Linked DNA regions of Homo sapiens: region 1 is linked to region 2. The links come from fine-mapping of genetic effects on gene expression. A gene starts in region 2. The other region holds a variant in brackets. All regions are shown on one strand. Distances are from middle to middle. Region 1 has its middle 24 kb from the start of VEPH1. Region 2 holds the start of VEPH1 (ventricular zone expressed PH domain containing 1).

The links. PIP is the estimated chance that this variant, and not a neighbour inherited with it, causes the effect.
Region 1: its variant is fine-mapped to the expression of VEPH1 in whole blood (TOPMed, PIP above 0.99).

What each region holds. Positions count from the first base shown.
Region 1 is chr3:157,524,843-157,530,229 of GRCh38, forward strand. No RefSeq gene overlaps it. Among named protein-coding and RNA genes, the nearest start is that of VEPH1, 24 kb to the left of the region's middle. The variant C/T (reference allele first, on the strand shown) is at 2,473.
Region 2 is chr3:157,500,618-157,506,004 of GRCh38, forward strand. VEPH1 (ventricular zone expressed PH domain containing 1) reads right to left here and starts at 2,799. Exons shown (of 14, transcript NM_001167912.2): 1 at 2,660-2,799. RefSeq lists a silencer at 2,592-2,826.

The DNA.
Region 1 (5,387 bases), 24 kb after region 2:
ATTTGTTTTAGGAGTGAATCCCTTCTCCAGTGAGCTGTACTGCCATCTTCACATATACCATTTTCTTCTAGGGAAGAGTCTGATTCTAGAATCTATAATATGTTTTGTTCTTTTAGAATATAGTCTATCCCTGCACCAATACCACATTGTTTCAATTACCATATTTGGTAGAGCACATTGCCTTATTTTTCCTTTCTCAAAATTATTCCAGTGATTCTTGGCCCTTAGCATTTCCATGTAAACTTCAGAATCAGATTGCAACTTCCATGTAAAACTCTATCTAAATTTAAATTAAATAGTACGGGTCAGGTGTGGCAGCTCACACCTGTAATACCATCACTTTGGGAGGCTGAGGTGGGCAGATGGCTTGAGCCCAGGACTTCAAGACCAGCCTGGGAATTATTGTGAAACCTCATCTCTACAAAAAAAATAGAAAAATTAGCCAGGTATGGGAGCATGCACCTGTAGTGGCAGCTACTCAGGAGGCTAAGGTGGGAGGATTGACTGACCCTGGGTTGAGACAGGGCTGCAGTGAGCTGTGATCATGTCACTGCCCTCCAGCCTGGGTGACAGAGTGAGACAGAAAAGGAAAGGGAAGGAAAGGGAAGGGAAAGGAAGGGAAGAAAGAAAGAAGGAGAGAAAGAGTATGAAATGTACAGATAATTTGGGAAGAATTAACATTTTTACATTAAATTTTCACATTCATAAGGTTGCCATAATTCCAAAATTATTTAGGTCTTCTTTGATGTTTTTCAATAAATTATTTTATTTCATATTTGGCTTTGTACATTTTTTTGCTAGGTACCTTATTTTTGTTACTATTGTCAATGGTGGGAATGCAAATTGATAAGACTGTTCTGGAAAACTATATGACAGTACTTTATGACACGGAAGAAGCACGTGCCTGTCCCTGGCAATGCCAGTCCCAGGTGTCTACCAAGGGAAGCTCTTGCCCGTGAACACCAGGAGATCCGTAAAAACAGCCTTATTCACATTCAAAAACAAAAAACAATCCACATGTCCATAAGCAGTATAGTGGATAAATTATTGTGATAGATTCACTGAAATAGCACGTAGGAATAAAATTAACTAAATCTATGCATATTAACTTGTATAAACATTAAAATCATAATGTTGAGTGAAAAGAGCAAATCACAGAAGAATCCATATAGAATGATCCTTTTCATATAAAATGCAAGGACAGAAAATATTATATTTAAGTATATTAGGCAATATGTTAGCAGCACAGGCATATGTGGTAAGATTATTAAAAAGACAAATAAAATTAGCATTAAACTCAATACAGGAGTTACGTGGAAATGCAAGGGAACAGAGTTGTTATTGGAGGGGCACATTGTCAGCTCTGAAATAGTCATTTTCTATTTCTTAAGTAGGCTAGAGGGAACATATGCGTTTGTTTTATTCTTTTAAAATATACAAATGTGTGTGTGTATATGTATGACACACATATATAGTATGTGTACTTTTGACATATGATATCATCTATAATAAACTCTTCATACAAATTTAATTAAAACTTTTAATAACTGAACTTTTTTGGTAATCCAAAGTACTTTTTATGGTTTCATGATGGCTCATTAATATGTCAGCCTCAAGAGTGGCTTATGGCTGAAGAGTTTTCTTTAGCCCCCTGGACAATTGAAAATGGGATAAATGACAAACTTTGAGATCCTTTTTTTATTTCCAATCCTCCTTTCTTGCTTAAAATTATCCACTCCAAGCTATTACTTTTCATAAGTCCTGTTTCATTGACTGAATGGCATGAAACTCTCTTATTTAAAGAAAGTAATCTAGTCCAAATTTTCCTAAACTTTAAGCCATTTGAAAATCCCTTTATAATTTTTGAGATATCCATTATCACATGTGCTGTTACATATATAGTATTTTTCTTTATTTTTCATTTCATATTTTATTTCAAAATGCAGTATTTTTCATTAAGTTTGTCTTAATTTGGCTCACTTTTGCTATACTTACCTCACCTTAAGAAATATTAGTGAAATCATGAGTTTGATGTGCTATTTCTATTTTACCTGACATTCATGAAAATAGAATCAGAACTATCAACATATTTTAAAGTTTTCCACATATCACATCTGACCAAAGGTCATTCTATGTCCATGTGCCACACTTTAGGAAAGTCTAATTAAAAGTAGGAACACACACACACAAACACACACACACACACACACACACACACACACGACTGTCTGCTTCTCTTCCCATCTCCTCTGCTCCAACAGTACATGTTCACTGGAAGGGCAACCAGCAGCCAGCTCTGGTTTCAGCATTTGCCAGGCTGCCAATCTTCCCCTTTGTCTGTAGAATGTTTCCCATTTGGATTTGCTTTCTGCCTTTTATTTGGGCTTGCCATCTTTCTGTTGCCCAGCTCACTATAAAAGGGGGTAAATTTATGCCCTGGGAAACCAACATTCCCGCAGCTGCAATGCCAGC[C/T]GGTCGACCAAGATAAAGTATCAGAGCAGAATTAACAGACTGGTGCTCAAGTCCCTGTTTACACATGGGCCAAGTCACTAGGGGCATGTGTGGCTATGTTAAGAGTAGGTTGTCAACCTCCCCATCAGCATCCTGCCAATAGCAGGGTGACAGCAGGCCCTACAGTCTTCTGTGACAATCCAATTCACACATCTCGAGTGATCATCAACCACTTGGGCTTAACTGACTCAAATTCTCCACCCACTTTCTAGCTTGGACATTCTTGGTTTATTAAGTCCTGCTTAATAGCATGAGGCATCTCTGACACAGTTTGATTAAATAAGTTTTTTCTCTTCCTTTTAGTTGCTCTTTAAGCTTGGATGGTTTAGATATTTCCAGAAGGCTGCCACTGCCTCTTAGTTCTACACATGTGTATATGATGCCATTGGCAGGGCCTTCCAGGCGCATAGCTGAGTCTGTTAAGACTTAGTGAAGCCTGAAACAGAATCAATGTTTCATTTACATCAGAAGGCTCTACATCACATCACATCCTGCTGGACACAAGCTGGACAATATCTTAATACTAATCAGCTTTTTCTGACATTGAATTCTAAGGCTTGGTATTTTGAAAACAAAAAGTATTAGCTTTGGCCCTCCCAGCTGCTCTCTGACGATTGTCTGCCCCCTTGCCAGACTGTACAATTTGACACTCTTGTTCAGCGACTTCTCACTCATTAAACTGATCAAGATACAAAACTCGTTAGTTAATTTTTCATGCACTTGGGGGATCTGGTTGCATATTTTAATGATCTGCTCTCAGAATGTGCTGATCAAACTGCATATTTTGTTGATTTGCTGTGACATATCCTTAACCACAGTGTTGCTCACACAGGGTCCTGGGTGATGTGAGCTGCATCCAGGAAATGCTGAGTAGATGCCATGTGTGCTAATTGAGCTGTGCAGCTCCACTGAGGCTCTGATGTACTCTTTACTGATTGATTTGAATAATAACCATTTGGAAATTTCATATTCCGTATCCTGGGGCTCAGATGATATCAAAACTAATATTTATTAGAGTAGCATTCATTCTAGTTAGACCCTAAGGCATTTTTCTCATTTGCTTAAGGTTTGGTCATGAAAACTGGAGACTCCACACACATGCACACACAAACACACACACACACACACACACACACACACACACACACACACACACACACGCCCCATGCATAAATGAGATAAACAAAGAAGCCAGGGTGGAAGTCTAGACAAGGTCAAACAGAAAGATAATAGCAATAACTTAGCTAGACTCTCTGGGTCCTGTTTTTGTTGAGAGCTTAGGAATTGGCTGTATGTATTTGAAAAACAAATCATCTGACCTTGCTGTCTCAGCCAGAGAGGGTGCTCAGGACCCCTGCCAACGAGGAGGCAGAGAGCTGGGCCACCAGGGCCTTCTTCAGAAGGTCAGGGGAATTGGGCTGTTATCCAGAACCTACATGACTGATCACATGACTCCTAGCAAATAAATCACGATCTCCAGATCTCATTTGCCAAATTTGTTTTTTAAAAAGATGAGTGAGGCCATGGGCACTTTCAACTTCTAAATTCTATAAGGTATAAATAGTCAGGTCATGGTTAAAAAAAAAAACTCTACCAAGGAAAATTATTTTACATTATAGACAGATGGATTTTGCTTTAATATACTACCACAACACAATAATAATAAAATAGAAAATCAAAATTAAAAGGGGGGTTTGAGAGTAGTGGGATTGTCTTCTCAGGATAGAAACAAAAAGATGACATAAATAAACATGATTTTTCAGCATGCTTCAAATGCAGACTTTTGGGGCAGATACTCTGTATGAACCTATAAGGGACCAGATAGTAAATATTTTAGTCTATGTGAATCATATAGTCTCTGTCATACCTATTCAACTTTTCCATTATAGTGGGAAAGCAGCCACAGAAGACGCCATAAACGAATGAGCATGGCTATCTATCAATAAAACTTTATTTATAAAATCAGGCAACTGGCTGAATTTGGCCCAAGAGCAGTGATTTGTTTACCCTTGGTCTAAAACATTATCCTATTATTTTTCAGTTTACTCTTCTATAAAAATATAAACCTGATAAGATCTACTATTTGTGAATGTTAGAAGAATTAAATGAATTATTACAATATTTAGTACTCAAGTACTTAGAACCATGACTCACACATAGAAAGCACTATGGAAATGTTAGTTAATTTTTGTTACTATTAGTTATTATTTGGATTGTATAACCAAATTAATTCATTGTCCTGATAATTAAGTCTCTGCCATGTGTCATTTCTGGGTTCTGTGTTGACCTAACCAATCAAAGCCTTTTTGTCATGGAGTGCACAGAATGGGGTGGGAGTCAGAGATGAAAAAAGAGATATCTAGCTAGCTAGCTAGCTAGCTAGCTATTGAGAGAATATATATCTCTCTCATAAATGATATGGTTATATCTATAGAAGGAAAGAGAAAGGATGGCTCAGGAGCACATGCGCATAGTAGAGACAGCCAACCCATGAATGGAAGAGATCAGATGAGGCTTCCAGAAGGAAGTGATAGCTAAACTGAACATGCAAAAGCAGCAGGACTTTGCCTGTCAAAGGGGACAATGAGGGATGAGGGCATAGCTGGAAGGTACAGGAAGAGTGTTTAATCAGAGGAAACAGACTGAGAAGAGTTGAGTGAATGGGAAGTGATGAGGAGGGAGGCTAAAGAGATGGACAAAGCCTCATGAGCCATATTATAGATTCGGGGTGGATCCTAAACTGGAAGCTTGCATGGTTTAAGCAGAGGAATGACATGATCAGATTTTTATTTTAGATAGAATGCTCTGACCACACATGGAGAATGGATTGGAAGGGGCAAGACAAAACCAGTGCTTAAAAAAAAAAAAAAAGGCAA
Region 2 (5,387 bases):
TACAATATACTAATGAAGTTTCGTCTTTTAATGGAATAGATGATATTGCTTTAGCCTTCCCTTTTAATCCTCTATTCATTATTACTGATTTTTAATCCCTAGATTTTTATCCAGTTTTATTTTTTTAAAGGGTGTAGAGTCCTGAATTGGACACTCTATGGAACTCCAGTAAGAAGAGCAGAGTGATAAGAGTATGGGAATCTAGACTCAACTGGATTCCAAGCTCAGCTATGCCATTACCTGCAGTGTAAATGTGGGCAGGTTAATTAGACTCCCTGAGCCTGGAATTCCTCCTTTGCTCCTGAGGATTGTGATATGGGTTGTTGGGAGGTTTAAGGAGATGATATAAAACATTTAACACAGAGCCTGGCATATGGCAACCACAGAAAAAGTGCCAGCAATCATATCCTTAAGAGTACTATTATTCCTATAGATGGTCCACCAGTTAACACATCCCCATGCCATACCTTTTAAAAATTAATACATGACTGTACTGTTCACTAAATTGGGTTCACAGAGCTAAAGATGTTTAGGTTGTTTCCATTTGAGCCATATTTATATCTTTGTTGTCCTTTCTCTATCTTAGTCATCCTGTCCTTACCTCTGGGTTGTTCACTTTTCATCTGTAAACTTCATTCTCTTGAATGGGTCCCTGTTGATTTTTTGGCAACCTTATCTTGTTTCCTGGAGAGATAGTTTTACGGTGATCCTACCCACACCAAGGTTGAACAATAACAGTGAATGTTTTTACAGAGCAGAAATGGGCTAGAATACAATGTATCTCAAACTTTTTGTGGCTGGGTAATCCAAACACCTGAGTTTTCCATGGAAGTGTAGCACTCCTTCCCGTGTTTATTAGTGAGAAAGGAGTGGCCCTCCAGGGCTCCAGCTACTTTCTTTACTACTTTTCAAGGTGACGTACACTCAATGCCCACTAATAAAACATTAGTGGCTTACTCTATTATGCATCTGTAGATTCTGCTAAATGAAAATATACATGAACTGGAGGACTTAATCGCCACACTATTGGGATACTGCCTATAGAATAATTGAAACTCTTGGGGGAGATTTCAATCACCATAATTAACTCAAGAAACCAACTTATTCTGAAGAATTCAGCCTCTAGCTTGCAACTTAGGTTAGGGTATACCCTGGCTTCCTCACTTCAGAAAATTCTAGAATGACAATATTTATTTACATTACGCTTTAGACTACATTACTCTGCATCAAAACATTTTCATTTTATTCACCTGTATTAAAAATGCTCATTAACAAACTTAGACCCATTTGGGCTCTAGAAACTTTCAATAAAGTTCTCAGATTTTTCCCTTGAAAGAAAGGATTACAGATTCTTTTGAAGGAGCATCTTTTTCACACAGCGTGAAAGGACTACAGGCGTTCCCATGGGAATTGGCTGCATACATTTCAGCCCTTCCCACAAGATGTCTATTGTTCCCTGGATGTCTCTGGGCTTCCTTGGCTGTGGCGTGCTGCTACACTTCACTTCTACTGAAAGCCTCTGAGTCTGGCTTATTCTAAGCAATGCTAAAGGCTTCAGCCCTGTCTTTTTGCTAGAGTACATACGATCTAAGTTTGTAGCAGGCTTATTTCATAAGTACATGAAAAAAATAGATTTGGTGACCTATTTAGTCAAGAGCCCAAAAAACTACTTAATTTTGATTACCTATTTCAACTTATTAAAACACAAATAGGAAACATTTCCTTCAAAAAGGATGAGAAACACTTATCTTCAAGTCTAATAAACTTTCTAAAATCAAGGCTTTTGTGACTTGTCATAATTTTATAGTGTATTCATTTTCACCTGTAAATGTTGACTTTGTTGGTCATTTTTGCTCTGGAATAATACAAATCTTGCTGAAAAATCCTAATTCAAATTCGTGGGTTTGTTCTTCCAGAAAATGTACCAAAACTCTCAAACTACATGGAAAACTCAATGTTAAATGTATCTTCATTTACATTTAAGTTTCATGTACCAAATATCTATATGACCAACTCAAATATTTCTCTAAATATTTTTTTCTGCTTTTTAAATCAAAAATATATAAATGTCATTTAATCCAATGGTTGATTACTACAACAATTTAAGTGTGTATCTGAAAGAGTAAAAAAGTGGTTAGATTTAATTATGATTTGTAAGATATCTGAAACACCAAAGGAAAAAACGGCAGCAGCAACAAACAGTAATGGTGACCCTGTTCAACCCACTGACTGTAATGATGCTATAATATTTAATTTTCTTTGAAAATCCGTAGGCAGAGCCAGTTTCTTTGCTGGTTGCAAAATGTTGATTGAAGTAAACAAAAGTATAAAATAGAAATGAGACTAGATTATTACGGAGTAAAACAAAAATGCACATGATATGAATCTAGAAGCACAGCTTTCTGCTCCTGAGGCCTAGAGACATGTTTTAATAACCCACAGAGAAGTGGCATTTTTACTCTAATAACCGAAATGCCTGCATACATGGCTAGACACACAGCTCCCAAATGTGCTTTATCTGCATAATCAGCCAGCCCCTGGAAGTTTCTCAGCTCCATTCTCCTATCCCCCACTCTTTGCTTCTTTGCAGCCTCTGACATTTACTTTAATTAGCTTTTGTTTTTGCTGAACAAAAGGTCATGAAAGAAGATAGCCATACCTCTTTGCACAGGAATCTCTGGTCATAGAAAATAGAAGGCAAAATCCTTGATCTTTAGAGCACTGCAGCTGGGACCCATGACCATGCTCAGAGGCAGCCTTGCAGCTGCTGCCCAGTCCTGTGGGCTGCAGCCGCGTCTCCCTGAGCTGCCTGTCAAGCCAGTGGTACATTTCATTCCCTCCCCATTGACTCACCGTGCGGAATCAGGCAAATGAGTAACTTTTCTTCTCTCTCCCAAACTTCTGCTTAGACCTAACAATTGACGCAAAGCTTCACTTATTTCTACACTAGATTTACAGATTTCTCTGAGCAGATCTGTAGTTTGAAAGAATTAGATTTGCCTAACAACCAGTAATTTAGGTTCTGTTAATGAATAACTCACTTTAAGAAATCAAGGAAGTTTTAGGTTAATATCAGATGTGGGGCCTTTTAGCAGGCATCAGGAAAAAGGCTTGGGGAGGGAATGCAGGAAGGGAAGCACTGGAATGAAATGGTATTTAAGCCAAATATGATAGAAGAAAAATACCACAAGAGAAGCAAAATAGCTAGGGTAAAGGAGCAAAAGTCTAATTATACTATTGGTATTGCTTACGAAACACACAACAACTTAATGAAACTTCCCTGGTAGCACTAGAGATTTTTCTGAACCCTCATGGTTCCTTCTTGCATCCACTCAAATTTCTAACTCCTTCCTTTTACCATCCAAATATAGAACTCATCTTTTCAAACCTAATTCATTGGGGATCCCTCACAAGCACTCCCACATCGCCTCATCTCTCTCTCTCTTTTAAGGAGAATGCACTTTAAAACCTCTAATGCATAAATTAATTGGTGGTGCCCAGTGGATTATTATATCTAGAGGCTCTTCTCTCCCTTTAAGTGTATGGCATGGGCTTTCTTCCCTTATTGATCTGAGGTTTTGCCTTCACATAAAGTGATAAAACATTTCTGAGTCTCTCCCGACCGGAACTTTCAGTCAAACCATGTGAGGGTAACAGGGAGGGTGGGGGCGGGGGCTGCAGTGGGGAAAGTCAGGTGTAAGATGTACAAGTGGAAATAAAAATATTTCCATTCAGTGGCAATCATGCTGCATGTAAAAAAATTACTAGTCCAATTAAAAGGACTACTCATGGGGTGAAGATTACTTTCTCTTGTGTTTGACACTCAACATTCACTTACTCTACTTTTAGTCAAAACTGCACCCAAATTTCCCTTGGGAAACCATGTCCTTTGGGTACAGCTGATGCCCATAAACAGGATGGGCCTTAATTGGTCTTACCCAAATTAGAGTAATTGCATTCCTGTGATCATAGTGACTAATGCAGGGCAGGTGTGCGACCCCTTCTAGGCCAATGAGAGGACAATGATGAAAGCTCAGCTTTGGGAGTAAAAAGTCTAAGCTGCTGGACTTGATGATAAGAAGGTGTAAGGTCTGGCTGCTATTGCCCTCTTGCCACCAAGAAAACTGTTGACTTCATTTGGGCCCCTTAAACCACCTGCCCCTAATGCTAGCAAGACCTACCCTTCAGTGTACACTAATAAATTCCTTAATAGCTTAAGTGATTTTAGATTGGGTTTTCTGCCATTTACCATTAAAAAATTTCCACCTGACAGAATCAGCCTAACCTAGTTTTGTGGGAAGTCTCTCCTGGGTGCAGCTCATTGAAAATTAAGTGGACTAAGAGACTCAACAGGAACTATCTATGACAAATGGGCTCCTTCAGTGACAACCACAGGCTTCCTCTGACAACTAGCAGATGCAAGAAAGGCCTGGAAAGGAATGTAGTCATTCAGTGTACCTGAAAACAGGACCTTCTAAATTATTTTTTCCTAACCAGCTACATAGTCATTTCCTCAATACTTGAGTCCCCCAAAATAATTAAATTTAATCTCTTAGACTTGCCTGGCAGTACCTAGCCACATACCATTTGACCTCAATACCCTTGTCATGGAATCCATCCATTCATACACAATTTTCAAAAATTTCCTAAAATCACTTACGCTATTAAGGAATTTATCAGTGGACACTGAAGGGTGGAGCTTGCTAGCTTTAGGGGCAGCTGGTTGAAGAGGCCCAAATGAAGTCATCAGGTTTCTTGGTGGCAGAATGGCAACAGCAACCAGATATTACACCTGTTTGTCAAAAATGTATTTGAGTAATCAGTTTTACAGAGTATTGCTTTGTCTTTATTTTTCCCCTCTGTTCTTGTCTAACTCTCACTCCTTCCCCTCCTTTGGGAAACTTGAAATAAAACATTGTCTGTAACCACAAAATCAGACAAAGACGTTTTCTTTACAGAAAAGAGGTAAATTCTAAGGCAACTTACATAGGTGAGTTACATATAAACACTGAGAACTTCTGAATGATTTCATTTTCTATAAACAGTTTTTCTTACCTGTAATCATGAAAGCTCCTGTAAGCACACCATTTCTATGGTCAGCCTTCCAGCTTTGAAGAGTCCATTGCAGGCACAAAAACTCAGACACAGCCAGGAACTCCCTTTTGGCTCAGCAAAATAGCATGTGGCATGAACTATGACAGTCAAGTTTCTTTCTTTCTTTCTTTCTTTCTTTCTTTCTTTTTTTTTTTGAGAAGAAGTCTCGCCCTATTGCCCAGGCTGAAGTGCAGTGGTGCGATCTTGGCTCACTGCAACCTCTGCCTCCTGGGTTCAAGCAATTCTCCCACCTCAGCCTCCCTAGTAGCTGGAATTACAGGCGCACACCACCA